Linked DNA regions of Homo sapiens. The protein of the gene in region 3 interacts with the protein of the main gene of each other region in a biochemical or structural test. Each region holds a gene or a part of one and is shown on either strand. Other genes may lie near its edges.

Evidence for each region.
Region 1: the proteins of CORO7 (region 3) and WASL form a complex in vitro, tested with the Homo sapiens proteins (one study listed by BioGRID).
Region 2: of the proteins of CORO7 (region 3) and ZRANB1, one has a biochemical effect on the other in vitro, tested with the Homo sapiens proteins (one study listed by BioGRID).
Region 4: the proteins of CORO7 (region 3) and KLHL20 form a complex in vitro, tested with the Homo sapiens proteins (one study listed by BioGRID).

What each region holds. Positions count from the first base shown.
Region 1 is NC_000007.14:123,693,136-123,697,469, forward strand, and holds part of WASL (actin nucleation-promoting factor WASL), read right to left. Parts: intron 3,613-4,334; coding exon 3,444-3,612; intron 2,731-3,443; coding exon 2,688-2,730; intron 1,734-2,687; coding exon 1,580-1,733; intron 1-1,579. UniProt on the Homo sapiens protein: Regulates actin polymerization by stimulating the actin-nucleating activity of the Arp2/3 complex. Involved in various processes, such as mitosis and cytokinesis, via its role in the regulation of actin polymerization.
Region 2 is NC_000010.11:124,979,568-124,983,901, reverse strand, and holds part of ZRANB1 (ubiquitin thioesterase ZRANB1), read right to left. Parts: intron 2,678-4,334; exon of another isoform or gene 2,574-2,677; intron 2,194-2,573; coding exon 2,073-2,193; intron 728-2,072; coding exon 598-727; intron 444-597; coding exon 214-443; intron 1-213. UniProt on the Homo sapiens protein: Ubiquitin thioesterase, which specifically hydrolyzes 'Lys-29'-linked and 'Lys-33'-linked diubiquitin. Also cleaves 'Lys-63'-linked chains, but with 40-fold less efficiency compared to 'Lys-29'-linked ones.
Region 3 is NC_000016.10:4,409,746-4,414,079, forward strand, and holds part of CORO7 (coronin-7), read right to left. Parts: intron 3,660-4,334; coding exon 3,563-3,659; intron 2,686-3,562; coding exon 2,611-2,685; intron 1-2,610. Other genes in the region: CORO7-PAM16 protein, read right to left, coding at 2,611-2,685, 3,563-3,659. UniProt on the Homo sapiens protein: F-actin regulator involved in anterograde Golgi to endosome transport: upon ubiquitination via 'Lys-33'-linked ubiquitin chains by the BCR(KLHL20) E3 ubiquitin ligase complex, interacts with EPS15 and localizes to the trans-Golgi network, where it promotes actin polymerization, thereby facilitating post-Golgi trafficking.
Region 4 is NC_000001.11:173,780,560-173,784,499, forward strand, and holds part of KLHL20 (kelch-like protein 20), read left to right. Parts: intron 1-1,564; coding exon 1,565-1,671; intron 1,672-3,940. UniProt on the Homo sapiens protein: Substrate-specific adapter of a BCR (BTB-CUL3-RBX1) E3 ubiquitin-protein ligase complex involved in interferon response and anterograde Golgi to endosome transport.

The DNA.
Region 1 (4,334 bases), on a different chromosome or scaffold from region 3:
CTGAAAGTAAGGGGAATAAACATTTTCTACTTTACAAAATAATAACAAAATATACCAATGAAATTAAACATTTTGTTAATTAGCATTAGTTTACATTTTAATAAAAATAAATACCTTCCCTCTTTAAAAAAGAATCAAGTACACTTATTTTTTTAAGTAAAATCAATTCACATTCAGAATTATAGTGTAGCATAGCTTAATAGAATTCATTCACATTAATCTGCGCTAAAGCCCAAATATAATGCTTTCCTTTCAAAATGTAAGCCTTTGTCATTTAATTTACATTTGTACTTTTATAGCATAATGTCTGTATCTCTAAAAATTGTCTGCAATTCTAGTAATGGCATTATAGGAGGCTGGTTGCTTTGTTGAAATGCTCAATTACTTATTCCAGAGACATGAACTGGTTATTAACAAATTAACTGAGAATTTCCATACACTGCAAAATTAAAGTTATTAACAAAAATTACTATTATTCCAGTAGTCATGATATTAGCATTCTTATTCCACATCAGTGAAAATGTAAGATATAACAGAAAAATAAACTTGGCTGAGCATGGTGGCTCATGCCTGTAATCCCAGCACTTTGGGAGGCCAAAGCGGGAGGATCACTTGAGGCCAAGAGTTTGAGACCAACCTGGCTAACATGGAAAAACCCCGTTTCTATTAAAAATATAAAAATTAGCAGGGTGTAGTGGTGCATGCCTGTAATCTCAGCTACTTGGGTGGCTGAGGCATGAGAATCCTTTACATCTAAATATCCTGAGACTAGTACTGGCATAATAATGTTTATGAACTATATAAGTCAATCTATCAATCAAAGTTTAAATGAACACTGGCAATGAAAAAGACATAAGTAAACTGAATGCCTAATTTAAAATGACAGTTAAGTTCTTCAGAAGAATGTTTTAACCGGAGCTTTTGCTTAACTACACTATTATGAGTATGCAAAAGCTAGGAAGAAGAAAAGAAAGCAGTCCTAATAAGGTAGCAAAGAGATGACTGTTAATTGGAAAATTTAGAGTATTTTATCTGCATTTTACTGCAATAATTATTAAGACAAAACTGAAATACGAGGTCCTTTAAAATAAATATCAAATCTTAAAAGGTTATAAATTGTGCTCTCAGGTACAAAAGAAAATTTCATACTTTATCCAAGAAAAAGGATTTGTATTTCAAAATAGAAAGTTTACATTATTTATATTCTGGAAATGCGTATATTACTAATTAGAAAGTGATTATATTTAAATTATTACTTCTGAATTACAATAAAATCTGGTGGTTTATAGGATTCCTTAAGTATAACATTTAGGCAACTATAAGTTTTTACTTTAAAATAGAATAGCTGGGAAGATTTTGTATGGATTTTTATGAATAAAGAATAAACAAAACCTTGTAAAGTTTTTTTAGTTATAATGAAATAATGTTAAGACACAGTGTGATGGGCCACATTAGTTGTCCATAGACTTCAACATTCTGCTCAAGGAAGGGTTCACATGTATGAATGTTAACTGGTTTCCATGAAACTGACCTCAAAAGATTAAAACAAAACAGAACGCTGAATAGAGATAAAAGTTACCTTGCCTCCGCAGTTCATTTTTAACAGCTTCAACACCTCCTGTTTTTTCAATAAAGTCATATATAACTTTTGATGTTTCTCTGTCTTTAAGTTGTGCCTCTGAGATTCCACACATATCGAAAAGATTCTTCAATTCTGGATCCAAATTATTCAGCTACAAAAGAAAGTAACTGCTAACTATAAAAATATATCCCAATTTAAAAAACATAATTTTAAGTCTCATCTGTGTCCTTCTGAAATTATTTTGCCTAAACTTTTAACATGCTTATATTACTTATGTGCTAACTAAAATATTTTATTAAAAAAAACTGAACAGATATATTCCCTATTTTATTCTTCTTTTTTGTTCCCTGCCTTCAAAAAGAGGGCATCTCATTTAGATTTCTATTAGCCTATTCATGATTCAGACATCTCCAATGCTCATTTATTCTACCTTGTCCTAAGTAAGTATGTAAAAATCAGGAATAAACACAAAAAAAGTAAATTAATTTGAAAATCTGAGAGCAAGGATCTTCCTGTAATCCCAAGCACCTTGCACAATGCCCAGCACAAGAGGTGCTCAGTATGTTTGTTGAGTTAACATTGTAGCTATAACAAAAATAACTAAAAATATTTTTTACTCCAATCACAAATAATATCTCTTTAAAATAATGCATCCAAACGCTGATTAATTTTTGCCAGCAGTTTCACAGTGCTATAAAACAACGGCAAAACTGCCAAAAAGAACAGGAGAATGAAAAGATCTGGAGAATTCAACAACTGAATATTCAGAATTTGATTATACTACTTTCTAGTAATTTGGTATACACTCCCCTGAAATTATCACTTGGCAGAAATGATTTTCTTCTCTTGGCTTTCAAAGCACAAGGATTTTATTTATACAGTGTATAAAGCCAAGGTACACAAAACCTTAGTCTAAGTCTTTAGAGACTTAGCCATGAATGACAGAACAATAATATGGTTTTAAACCTCAGTTGTATACATACATAAAACACAAGCACATTCAAACAGATACTAGAAACCACAAAAATGAATTTAAAAAAATCTAAAATAGGCCAACACATTTCCACATACAGTTATAACGTATATGATTTGAAAACATACTTACATCAAAGCCTGTATTTGGATCCCAACCAACATGTCCAATGTGCCTGAAGTAGAAAATAGAAAAAAAATAGAAAAACAAAATGCATAAAGGGCATTATAAACACAATATATATGAAACCCAATCTACATTTGGCTTTGAATTTTTGGTCTGAACTAACAGTTCTCACAGACATAACCATATTGTGATAAAAACTATGTACAAGGAGTCAGAAGAACAGGATTCTAGCCCTGACTCTGCTACTAACTGAAACTTAAAATTTTTGTACAATCTCTCTGAGCATCTATTTCCTTAATTGTCAAATTAGCATAAGAGTCCAAGCATTATATATATGACGGGATAAGGGTTTCATAATGAGCTAATAAAATAATGCATATGAAAATGCTTGAAATATGTTAAATACCAAAGGTTTTTACTGCCCCTAGGCAGTATCTGTAAACAATTTCTAAATGCTATTTTTAGAGCAAAGTGAGAAATCATTTTTATGTTCAATAATTAGTTGAAGAAACAACTTTATCTAATTTTTCTTTTCTCATAGTTGAAAAAGTAAATAAACCATAAGATTCCAAGAACATCTATTGAGCAGCTGCCTTAAAAAAAAAAAAAAACTCCAATAAAGTACATAGTTAAAACGGTATCCAAGTGATGAATGTACACACCCTCCCGAAAAGAGAAGAAAATTTTCTAACAAGTTAAAAATCAAGAACAGCAATGAATAAATCAAAAGTGAAGATAAGAACAACAAAAGAACTGTCTTACTGGAAATTGCTTGGTGTTCCTATATCTGCCTTGGTTAATCTCTTCTTTTTAGCTTTTCCCTTCTTCTTTTCTTTGGTATGGGAGATGTTGTTGACTTGTGGACCATAAAATCTATTTGTTGTGATTTCTGGATTTTTTATATCAACTGTAGCCATGGGTAGATTAGGACCTGCAAATAAAACCAAATTATATAAAAGGGATATAATTTAAGATAACTGATATACAATCATAATTTACAATTTAAATACTTTTTCTGAAATAGGATCACTTCATTATAAATTATTTATATTTTAAACTTCTACATTTTTTTCATAAAGTGCTGCCTAAATTTCTAAAACCTGTTAAGTTCTTGAAATGAGTGTAGATGCACTATTTCAAAGCAAACTTACATTTTTATGCCATTAAATTTCATAAAGAATATGAACTTCCAGCTAGAATTTAAATATAATTAGTCTAATCTCTTAAATTTTGATTATAATAGCCTCATATCCAACACATTGCTCAACAGTAAAGTGAAACATATCTTGTAACAAGGATAAAGAAAGTAAAGTATCTATTTTTGTTTTAAATTTAACAAAGAAATATAGCCTTAACTCTTTGTTTCAACTTTATTAGTCAAGAAGAAAAAGGGTACTTAAAATTATTACTACCATTTTTTCCAGAACTGGCATCCTTAAGTCAAATGATATTTTCCCCACCAGTACGCATACACCTTGACTATCAGAAGTATAGAATTTAAAAATTTAAAACACAAAAATTCTTAAAGCACTCATCTTGTGCAAGAATCAACAGTAAAAATGTCAAAGGCATCTTTCCATATTATTAATAGTATCTTCAGAAGTGGTACTAAATGTAGCAGAAAACTTGTCTTACAATTCAAAATAAAATTCT
Region 2 (4,334 bases), on a different chromosome or scaffold from region 3:
TAAAACCCATCACCACCTTAAGTTCCTTGATGTGTCCCCATACAGCAGTTTTGAAAAGGTAAATTTCAAAGTATAGCTAGTACCTTCAGCAATTACTACCATCACATTCAGAAATTAAGTGATAGTGCAGATAAAACCACACCTGAAAGGCACTTCAGGCTGTTTCTGGTACAAGGTCACTACTAGAAATAGTTCATAGGAGAAACTGCTTACCTCCTGAGCAGAAAGGAAGTGCACATGGAGTAGCTTCCTTTCACTGTCAACCAGAGGCAAAAATGTGATGGTGACATCATCATCGGTATTGAGATTAGCACCAGCACCTCGGTTGCCATAGCCATCATTTTCCATGGCAACCAAAGCAGAGAAGTGGCCCCTCGTATAACCCAGAGCAATCGGACTTTTCCAACAAAAACTCTGTTCCCACAACAAAGGCAGATAAACACCTGGAAAGAGAGGGAAGAAAATCCCAACAGTCACAGGAAGAAAGAGCCACTCCCTCACTGCCCTTGTTCACATTCCCCTGTCCACTGCTCCTTCCTGACATCTGAGCCATTCCGTTCAAAGAAACTTGTAAAACGTTCCTGAATAATGGCTTACCTTGAAACCGAGTATATCCTAAAGTTTCTCCCCGGAAACTCTTGTAATATTTTACTCCATAAACTATAATTGGTCGTCTAAGAATATGTGCCAGTACAAAAATGTGCGTCTGCTCCAAGCTTGCTCCAGGCTGTACGAAACAAAACAAAAACTTAAAACATTTATTACCACTCCTGGAAAACTGATGTGTAAAAAACAATACTACCTCCCCTTCAGTATACTATCGCAGTTGGTTTTTAAGAAAGAAAAGATTGTCAAAGCAGCATTTGATTCCTCAAATAATAAATCCAGTAAAACTGTAAAAGAAATCTATAAAGGCTACATGCAAATATCATTTACCATCCAAACTCACAAATTATACAGATGTGCATACATACTTTGAAATATCCCTCACTACTAACTCTCCAACCTCAGGAACCAGAGATTCAGATAACTAAGGATGCTTTATTATCACATTCTCGTTAAGTTACTGTGAAAGCACTACCTACAACAAAGTCCTCCTGAAATAAATAAGTGAGCCTGTTTCATGCAAATGTAAATGGCAGTATCAACTAACTCGTGAATACTAATATTAAATGGGTCCATCATCGAGCTACAATGCATGGTGTGAGATACATGTCTCATGTAAATCAACCACTATGAATCCTGCCCAAATTGCCCAAAGATCGGGTACCTCCTTCTCTAAGTTCAAATGAACCATGGTGCTTTCTGCAAAAAAAAAGGAGTAGTTGTATATATATTTGTACTTTACAGTTTGGTATACTGAAGTGCTTCACAAAATAAAGCATGAAACCAAGAGTCTAAGGGACAACCCTACACAGTTCTGTGTCACAAGCAGCCTTCATTAATAAAAAGACGTTAGCAAACTTGCAAAACTTCATTCCCACATTAATCAGAAATCATTCCTATTGATGGTAATTAGTTCAGAGTAAGCTAAACTACCCTTTTCCTTTGCCTACATGACACAGGTATTGCCTCACCACAGGGAGCATTATGAAGATTGACAACTGGTTCCTCAGGGCCTGACAGATCAGCAACAGCAATGCAAGTACCTACACCAGTAATCTTAAGTGTCCCCAGAGACAGAACAGAGCTCACCTGGATAGGTACCATAGGCATCAAGCCTATGCTGCAGGAACGGAGAGCAATCCCAAGACTATCTACTGTATGTAACCGTCATAGCACAGCTTTCACTTTTTGATGTTTTTAATCATTCGATATAAAAACACGTTACTCTTCCTGCTCTGCAGTGAGGACTTGCGATGCTAATCTATACTTGCGATGCTCATCTATACTTGCGATGCTATTTATTTGATACACAGCAGTCATCACTAGAACCCAAGTTGACTGATGATACCACGTCAAGCATTCTTTTCTTTGACCACATTGCCCCCAACATGGTTTGCTCAAATAAACCAGTTTAGACTACATGCTTACTTTTCTCATAGAAGCAACAAGACTTGAAGCATCCTCACCTGACTAGCAAGAGAGAGTATAAATGCCCAGTCTTCTTGCCACTGTTCTTCTCTCAAGGAAAAATGTAAACCAAAGCTCTGAGAATACCATGATTCCCAATCTTTCCAGCGTGTGTAAAACCTAAAAAAGCAGGATAGTAAAAAAATAAATAAATAGTCTTCTATAAATAAAACATTTAAAGTTCTGATCATTTTTATTTAATGCAGTCTTTAAGCAGTCTGTGAAACAATTAATAATTTTATTTTGTCTGGTTGGTAATGTATTTTTCTAATGAAAAATGCCTCCCTCTTCCACTAGCAGATACCTTGTAACATCCTTTAACATCTTTAGTCAGAATTTGATTTACCGACAACCAAATTTTCAAACTTCAAACGCTAATGATGAGACTGGTTATTTTCCACTGTCCACAATTAGTTTACAAAAAAAAAAAAAAAAAGTCATCTGAAATGTTGTATACAAAGACACTACATTTCTCTATCAATGTATAGTACACCACCTACTTGATCACTTGTATAAACAACAGGTGGGAAATATTCCGTGTGTTCATAGTATCAAGATCATCTCCCTGAGATTTCTTTCCATAAATAATTTCTCTGATGATCACCTAATAATTCAAAAGCAACCAAAAAGAAACCCACTGCAATGACAGAAAACATTCCTTCTTTATGCTTAACACTGAATTACTGAAAACACATCGATTCTTTGTCTATCAAATATAAAAATTCAGAAATAATTATGCTCAAAATTATGGTTCACTGTCTTATAAAAACAAGCCAACTAAGACCTCTAAAATGCAGACAGACATTTAATCTGTTTATAACATCACATTTATCTTCTATACATCTGAATTCTAGGTAAAAGAAACAAAAGACCAATCTGTTCCTGTTGTTAAAAAGTTTCAGCATATTAAAGTTAAACGTGAACACGTGTGGTAACTCACACCTGTAATTCTAGCACTTTGGGAAGCTGAAGGAGGAGGATTGCCTGAGGTCCAGAATTCAAAACAACCTGGCCAACATAGTGAGACCCCGGCTATATTGCGGGGGGAAAAAAAAAGTTAAATGGGTGGTGTCACAAGTAACTTTACAGTAATTTAATGAAGGGCTCCTTAGAGAGTAAATATATTTCCTAAAGAAATTAAAATATAATGTTCCAGAGGTTTAACTCAGTTTAAAACATTTTTCATACTCCACGTAACTGAGGATGTTTAATCATAATTCCAAATGTTTTAAAATTAAAATATGTATATTCTTTTATAATCGCTAAGATAAATGTGTCTTGAAAATTTTGGCAACAGTGATGAAATACATTGTTTTGAAAAGTTCAAGGAGAAATATCAGAGAAATTGTCAATACTGAAAGTTATATGCAGTTAGAAATTTCTTGGTGCCTAAAATAACTTTATAAATAAGACAGCTAAGCCAGCCAGAAATTCAATGGTGATTGCACTCAAAACTCTTCAAAGACCACTGAAGAAGGGAGGTTCAATGAAATATACTTTAAAACTAAACATGTTAAAATGTTCATCCTCACCACCCCAAGACCTAAACTCTGATACTACCAGAGTCTCCATAAGAACAGACAAGCAAACCAAATCCAGCAATATATGACCAAATGGTACAGGAATACCAGTTTGGTTTAACATTCAAAACTCAATTCCATGTTCATGGATTGGAAGGCTCAATATTGTCAAGCTGGCAATACCACCATCACCCCAATTAAATCTACAGATTCAATGCAATCCCAATCATAATCCCAGCTGTCTTTTTTACAAAAATCGATAAAGCTGTATCCTAAAATGTATATGGAAATCCAAAGGACTCAAAATAGTCAAAACAATGTTGAAAAAGAAATACAAAGTCAAATGACTTACAGTCCAGATTTCAAAATGTATTACAAAGATATGATCATCCAGACAGTCTGGTAATGACATAACGATAGCCCAGTGGAAAAATAAATCAATAGAAAAATATTAAGAGTCCAGAAACAAACCCTTACTTTTATGGTCAACTAATTTTCGACAAAATTGCCAAGGCAATAGAATGTAGAAAGGGTTTTTTTCAATTAAAGGTACCGAAACAACTGGGTATCCACATGCAAAAAGGTGAATTTAGGACATCTCACACTTTAAACAAAAATGACCTCAAAATGTAAAACAAAAATGACCTAAATGTAAAAGTTAAAACTATAAAATTCTTCTATGAAAACACAGGAGTAAATCTTCGTGACCTTGGGCTAGACAAAAATCTCTTCAGATACAAC
Region 3 (4,334 bases):
GCTCACCCTCTGCTCCCCTGGCTGCTGGGCGGAAGGGCAAGAGTGGCCCTGAGCTGAGAGGCTGAAGGGGCCTCTGAAGGCAGGGCAACAGCCAGAGCCCCACCTGGCCATTTCTCCCGACACCGGCACCTCTGAGGCAGAAGGGCACCTGGTGCCTCTAGGGCAGGTTCCAGGGGTGCTGGAGCTCACCTTCCCATGAGCAGTTTCCCGGCAGGGCTGCTCATGCAGGCAAGGCTCTGAACAGTTGCAGCCACAGTGAGGCTATGGACTTGCCTACAGGACCCTGGTCCAGCTTCTACTTGAAGAGCCCTAGTAGCAGAGGGCTCACCACCTTGCAAGCATCACCAACTTGGGCTAGCTCCCTCATAGATAAAAAGCATCAAAAAGTCAAACATGAAGCCAGGTACATTGGCTCATGCCTATAATCTCAGCACTTTGGGAGGCCAAGGTGGGAAGATCACTTGAGGCTAGGAGTTCAGGACCAGCCTGGGCAACACAGCAAAACCCCATCTCCACAAAACATAAAAAAATCAGCTGGGCATGGTGGTGTGTGCCTATAGTCCCAGCTACTAGGGAGGCTGAGGATAGACGATCCCTTGAGCCCAGGAGTTCAAGACTGCAGTGAACTATGATTGCACCACCACACTCCAGCCTGGATGACAGAGACAGAGACCCTGTCTCTAAAAAGACAAACCCAAACACAGGCTCCTATAGACCTGGGTTCTGATTCTGGCCCTGCCATAACAATGGGTAAGTTCCTAACCTTGCAGGAGTCTCAGTTTTCATAGCTATAAAATGGGTTGTTTTAAAACCTACTTCAAAGAGATCTGAGATTAGATGAGAACAGACTTGTTATACAAGCTGCCACACACATGTATCTCTAAAACAACATGCTACGTGAAAGATGCCAGATTCCAAAGACCGTGTATTGTGCGATTCCATTTGCGTGAGATGCGCAAAAGAGGCCCCTCTATAGAGGAGAGGCCAGTAAACGTCTCCTGCGAAGGGCAAGGCGGTAAATATTCTAGGATTTCAGGGCTCAACAGTCTCGGTCACAACTCAACTCTGCAGTTGTTGCAAGAAAGCAACCACAGACTATACATCAATGAATGGGCGTGGCAGCGTTCCAATAAAACTATTTACAAAAACAGGCAGCCAGCTGGATCTGGCCGTGACAGTAGTTTGCAGACCTCTGCCACAGAGGCAGGAAGCAGATCAGCTGTTGCCTGAGGCTGTGGTATTGGAGGTGGAAATGGATTAACTGCAAAGGGGCATGCGGGATCTTTTGGGGATGATGGAAACGTTCCAAAACTGGATGGCAGTGCACATGACTCGGTCACTTTAATAAGAATCATCAGGCTCTTTACTTAAAACAGGTAATCTGACGGGGCCCCAAAACTTTGGGAGGCCAAGGCGGGAGGATAGCTCGAGGCCAGGAGTTCAAGACCAGGCTGGGCAACATAACAAGACCCCATTTTACAAAAAATTTTTAAAAATTAGCTGGAGGGGTGGTGGCATAAACCTGTGGTCCTGACAACTTGGGAGGCTGAGGTGGAAGAATTGCTTGAGCCCAGGAGGTCAAGGCTACAGTGAGCCATGATTATGCCACTGCACTCCAGCCTGAGTGACAGAGCAAGACCCTGTCACAAAAACAAACAAAAAACAGGTAACGTTGGCTGGGCCTGGTGGATCACACCTGTAATGCCAGTACTTTGGGAGGTTGACTTGGGAGGATTGCTTGAGCCCAGAAGTTTGAGACCAGCCCGGGCAATATAGCAAGACCTCGTCTCTATATACTTTTTAAAAATTTTTTAAAAAAGTTTAGATGAGAAAACTCAGCTAACGTACTTAGTACAGAGAGCAATCTCCATAAATCTTTACTATTGTTATTAACCACCATCATTATCATATCAGAACCCCTCCACGACCCTGCACACCCAGCCTGAGGACCAGGCATCAACTGCCTTCCCTCACCCGAAGGCCTCCAAACAAGCAGCCAGAAATGCAGGCCAGAGAGACTGGGCCCGCGGCCGCTGCAGCTGGACAGTGAGAGGCGAGGCCAGCTGGGCTGCTCTGCCTCCATCTGAGGCGAGCAAACTGTTCCCTCGAGGCGGACAGCCTGCCAGGCAGGCTGCTGGACGCCCCCAGAAGCAGCTGCGGCACACAAAAGGTCTCTTTGTGAGGGCCCATCTCCACCCCTGCAGCCCAACACAGCGACCTCCTTGGAGGGCCCCGAGCGGCTGGGCTGGGGAGGATGCCTGGTGGAGAGGGGACTCCAGCAGAAGACGGAGGGCTCAGAGCCATCCAACGTGGAGTCCTCGGCAGGGACAGGGAGCCAGCATCAGCCTGGAGCCTGGGGCGGCCACTGCACACCCCGCTCCATCCAGCTCACAACCGGAGCACACAGCTTCCCTCCTCACTGCCCAGGCCGGAATTCTACACCAGGAGGAAGCCTTCTGAGCCCCACTGTCTCTCAGAGAGTGCACAGACAGGGCGACAGGAGGGACCTGGCAAGCCATGCGGCAGTGGGACCAGGTGAGGATGAATTTCTGGCCCTGGAGAGGGAGGTGCAAGTTTCAGGCTTCACCCACTAGTCAGACACCCACTCACCTGAATGGCAGCCCAGGTGGGCCACGCGTCGCTTGTCCTCTCCTTGGCCTTGCAGAGGCACAATGCCCAGTACACCTGTTAAACAAACACGGGGACTCTGACTTCAGGCCCCACAGGGCCACCCACCTCCTTGCCCAGGGATCCCAGAGATGAAATCCAGCAGCTCAGCCTCGGACCTTCCCAGAGCCTCTACCAATCACAAGATCATATCCTCTGCACGTAGCAATGGCCTGTGGGTAGGTTCTGGCCCCATGCATGAGCCATCCATGCCTCAGATGGATACAGAAGACATTAGGCGAGAGGTCCTCTCTTTTTAACACGGGTCATACGAAAGGGGCGTGGGGCTTTCGTATGGGGCTTGCAGCTACCGTCAGCCACTTTTCGCACTTTTACTTGAGAAAGAAGCCAACACCCAAGGTGGCAGAGCTGAGAGACCCAGAGAGGTCAGGGCCGACAGTACATGTGAGCCTTTGGGCACCGATCTGCCTGAAGCCCCTGATCTCTTAGTTAGGCTGAAACATTATCCATTTTTTGCTTAAGCCAGCTTGAGGGTCTGAGTTACCACTAGCAATCAAGAGAGTGCCAACCAACACACGGGCTTTTCAAGCCTTTCTGTTCCTACTGTCCCCAGCCATCCAGGGCCCAAAGATGAGGAGCAGGGAGCACAGAGGGACAGCTGGAAATACAAGCGTCAGTCCCCTCCCAGCCCTCCTGGCCATGCTCTTGCCTGTGGTTTGTACACACATATGTCCTAATCAAAAGCAATCAGATTACTGCGCCTGGACCAGTTTGTGGGGGTCTAAGGTCTGGCATGGGGCTCACCTCTGAGCCCCCCAAAGCAGTTCCGTTCCAAGTCTCCAAATACACCAAGCCTGCCCCTGCTCCCCACCCCATCTATGGTGACGATGACCGAATATGTGAGCAAATATCCACACTCATGGCCATTCCCTACCAGGACGGTCGGAGTTGAAGGCGATCAAGCTGCAGCTTGATTTGATGTGGTTCCTGCATGAAGGGGCGGTTCCTGCTCGAATGTCACTGATCCAGGACTGAAAATCAAGAGTAAAGAAGTATGTGGTGAGAGCCAGGGTTCCACCTCCATGCATGCCTAAAGCAAGAGGTGGGGCATAATCTGGGGAACTCTAGCTCACAGCTGCACCATTCGAGATGCATTCTTTTATTTACTTTTTTTTTCTTTTTGAGACAGGGTCTCACTCTGTCACCCAGGCTAGAGTGCAGTGGCGCGATCTTGGATCACTGCAATCTCTGCCTCTTGGGTTCAAGTGATCCTCCTGCCTCAGCCTCCTGAGTAGCTGGGATTACAGGCGCCCAACACCAAGCCCAGCTAATTTTTGTATTGTTAGTAGAGATGGGGTTTCACCATGTTGGCCAGGCTGGTCTCGAACTCCTGGCCTCAAGTGATCTGCCTGCCTTGGTCTCCCAAAGTGCTGGGATTACAGGCATGAGCCTCCGCCCCCAGCCGTGTTGTGTTACTTCAAATCAAACTCTGTCCCCACTCACGAAGTCCCTTAGGAAATGTAAAATGTGGGCCAGGTGCGGTGGTTCATGCCTGTAATCCCAGCACTTTGGGAGGCTGAGGCAGACAGATCATCCTGAGGTCAGAAGTTCGAAACCAGCCTGGCCAACATGGTGAAACCTTATCTCTACTAAAAATACAAAAATTATCCAGGCATGGTGGCGGGCACCTACATACAATTCCAGCT
Region 4 (3,940 bases), on a different chromosome or scaffold from region 3:
TTGAGCCCAGGAATTTGAGACCCGCGTGGGCAACATGTGGGACCCCATCTATACAAAAAATTTAAAAATTATCCAGATGTAGTGGTGCATCCCTGTAGTCCCAGCAACTTAAGAAGCTGAGGTGGGAGGATCACTTGAACCTAAGAGGTGGAAGCTACGGTGAACTGTTTTTTTGTTTTATTTTGTTTTGAGATGGAGTCTTGCTCTGTCATCTAGGCTGGAGTGCAGTGTGCGATCTTGGCTCACTGCAACCTCCACCTCCCGGGCTCAAGTGATTCTCCTGCCTCAGCCTCCCGAGTAGCTAGGACTACAGGTGCGTGCCACCATGCCCAGCTGTTTTTTTGTATTTTTAATAGAGATGGGGTTTCACTATGGTGATCTGTGATCCTGCCACTGCACTGCAGCCTGAGTGACAGAGCGAGACCCTGTGAGTGAGAGAGAGAGAGGGAAAGAGGGAGAGGGAGAGAGAGAGAGGAGGGAGGAGGGAGGGAGGTGGGGGAGGGGAGGGGAGAAGAAAACACCAGCCAGGGAACATGTGCAAAAGTGTGGAGGTGTGAAAAATGTATGTTATCTTCAGGGACTAGCAGTTAATCCAGTTTTACTGCAGCAATAGGATTCATTAGTTAGGAGTAAAGGGAAACTATAAGAGGTGAGGCTTAAATAGTGGGCTAAGATAGATTTCTGGAGGGCCTGAGTAACATAATAAGGACTTTAAAACTTACCCTTAAATAGTAGGGAGGCTTAGAAAGTTGTTTTGGTTTTAGGAGATTTTTTTGAGAGGGTCCCACTCTGCTGCCCAGGCTGGAGTGCAGTGTACACAATCTCAGCTCACTGCAACCTCGACCTTTCAGGCTCAAGCAGTCCTCCTGCCTCAGCCTTCCAAGTAGCCGGGACTACAGGTATGCCCCACCACACCCAGCTAATTTTTGTATTTTTTGTAAAGACAGGGTCTCACTGTGTTGCCCAGGCCTGTCTCGAACTCCTGGGCTCAAGCGATCCACCGACCTCAGCCTCCCAAAGTGAGAAAGTTTTTAGAGGAAAGTGACAATATGATTAGATTTATATTTTTCTGTTTTACTTTATTTTTGTAGAGATAGGGGTCTCACTGTGTTGCCCAAGCTGGTCTTGAACTCCAGGCTTCAAGTGATGCTCCCACCTGGGCCTTCCCAAAGTGCTGGGATTACAGGCATGAGGTACCATGCCTGGCCTAGATTTGTATTTTTAAAAGAGAATTTTACTAGCAATTAGAAAGATTAGAGCAGGCAAATACCAGAGGAAGTGAGAGCAGTTTGGAGGTTGTTTGCTCACTTCTAGTGAACAGTTTTTCTAAAATTTAAGAAATACATGTTTTGGATTCTGTGTGAATATTCTAATTGAATATATAATTTTATAGTTCCCATAATTTGATAGACTTTTGTTGTTACATTTTCCCTGTGTTTCAGTAAACCAGAATGTAAGGCCATAAAGAATTATCTTTTGTAAATAGATTTATCTAGAAACCAGTCTATAATTTCCTTACGATTGTCTAGTTTCTTCAGCAGCTTACTGTATTTTGGTTTTGTAGGTTGGCCTGGCAGTGGTCAATGGACAGCTCATGGCAGTAGGAGGTTTTGATGGCACAACATACTTGAAGACCATAGAAGTTTTTGATCCTGATGCCAATACATGGAGGTAACTTTTAAGCTGTGTAGCAAATCACCTCACTACTGATTTGGAAATCATGGGCTTGAAATAGCCTATGACCATCAGAACTGGGATGGTCAGTACATTGGAGTACTTTGAAGAGGGCTGAAGTTACACATATTTATGGCTCATTTTGACTTGATTGCTCTAAAGTGGCTGATATATTACAAAATTCTCCTTTTCAGTAACTGTCCAGTTTTATAATTAGAGATGGGTAAAATAGGGAAAAAAAATCTTCCTAGTCCCATCATGTTCAGCTGAGGAAACAAAAGCACCGAGAAATAAAATGACCTGCCTAAGTGAGTTAGTGACAGAGTTAGAATTAGAACCTAGGTCTTTGGCTCCAAATCTGTCCATGCCATTTTTTGGTGTTCTTGTGGGAAACCTATGCCTAGGAGAAACAAATTGCAATTACTTTTGAAAAATTAATATTTGAAAAATAATATTTCATTTTTAAAGCCATTTTAACTTTTAGGGAGGAGGCTACATCTTATTTAAGAGAGCTTAACTTAAACTTCATTTCTAGGTTTAATTTTACTTTGCTTTTAAATCCTCAATTGTCTAATAAAGCTTTCTTAAGTAGTTAAGTAGTTTTTATAATTTCACATAAATTAGGTGACTTTTGCATTTATTTTAAATATTCAAGAACCTTTACAAACTTAGCAAAATTCTCTTAAACCTTTAAACTTAAAATAATTAAGTCTAAATCTTTACTCAATCATATTTTATACTTGAATCACAAGAGTAATCTTATAGATGCCCTAAAAAGCCAAATTCTCTTAAACACTACAGGAACTTAAAATGCAAAACACATAGTTTATTCTCAAACTTTAAAAATAACAATACTATGGGTTTGATGTATGGCATATCTGTACTTAATTCTAAATACTAGTCTTCTAAGAAAACAGTTTTGCCTTCCAAGCAATTTGGGGTTTCCTTCTCAATAAAATGGGCTTACTTGCCTAAGCAAGTTTAGGGTTACCATCTCAGTGGTTAAGGTTGCACATCAACCAGAAATATCAGGCTGGACATGTGAGCTGAGGCAGCAGACATTCTGGGAAATTTTTCTTATGACCATGAAGGATAAGCTGAGCTCTGTTTTATTGTTACTATTCTAAAAGAGGCAGTCTTGTAGTCCTTTCTTACTGTATTCTAATAGTCTATCTCTAGGAAAGCCACAACTCTCACAGAGATTTAAGTGACATGCTTTGGATCCTACATATGTCTCACAGCTCCATATGACTCAGTGGTCACAAAACTAAAGTCAGGCTAATAACAGCGTGTACGTTTTGCTCCTACATCACATTTTTACAGTCCTGTTCATTAAGTAAAGATTTATTGATGGCCAGGCACGGTGGCTCATGCCTGTAATCTCAGCACTTTGGGAGACCAAGGTGGGCGGATCACCTGAGGTCAGGAGTTCGAGACCAGCCTGGCCAACATGATGAAACCTCGTCTCTACTAAAAATACAAAAACTAGCCAGGCATTGGGGTGGGCACCTGTAATCCCAGCTACTTGGGAGGCTGAGGCAGGAGAATCACTTGAACCTGGGGTCAGAGGTTGCAGTGAGCAGAGATTGGGCCATTGCACTGCAGCCTGGGTGACAGAGCAAGACTCCGTCTCAAAAAAAAAAAAAGATTTACTAAGTGCTCCGAGCCCTGGGGATACAAAACTGAACAACAACAACAAAAATTCCTGCCAAGCGCACGCCTGTAATCCCAGCTACTAGGGAGGCTGAGGCATGAGAATCTCTTGAACCCAGAAGGTGGAGGTTGCAGTGAGCCGAGATCACACCACTGCACTCTAGCCTGAGTGGAAGAGCAAGACTCCGTCTCAAAACAAAACAAAACAACAAAAAAGTTCCTTGCCCTGCTGGAGCTAACCAATTGTATTGAGGGAGACAAACAGTACCATACCAGTAGATGGAAGTGCTGTGGCAAATATCAAAGCAGGGGAGGGGGCTAGGGAGTACAGGGAGGGGAATCTGTTTTTAAAGGTGTTCAGGGAAGGCCTCATTGGAAAGGTAGCATTTTAGCAAAACCTAAATACGGTAAAGGATAGGTAATGGCAGCTTTGGGCCTCTCACTGGCAGGATATTTTCTTCCATATACAGCTTTCTATTTTTACTAGGAATTTTGATTAAGCATAATTTCTGAAGACAGCCAAATTTACTGTCACTTAATCACTATAATCTTATCTGAGGACTTGTTTCTTAGTAACTGTCACTAAATAGAATTAGTAATAGATGACAAAGTA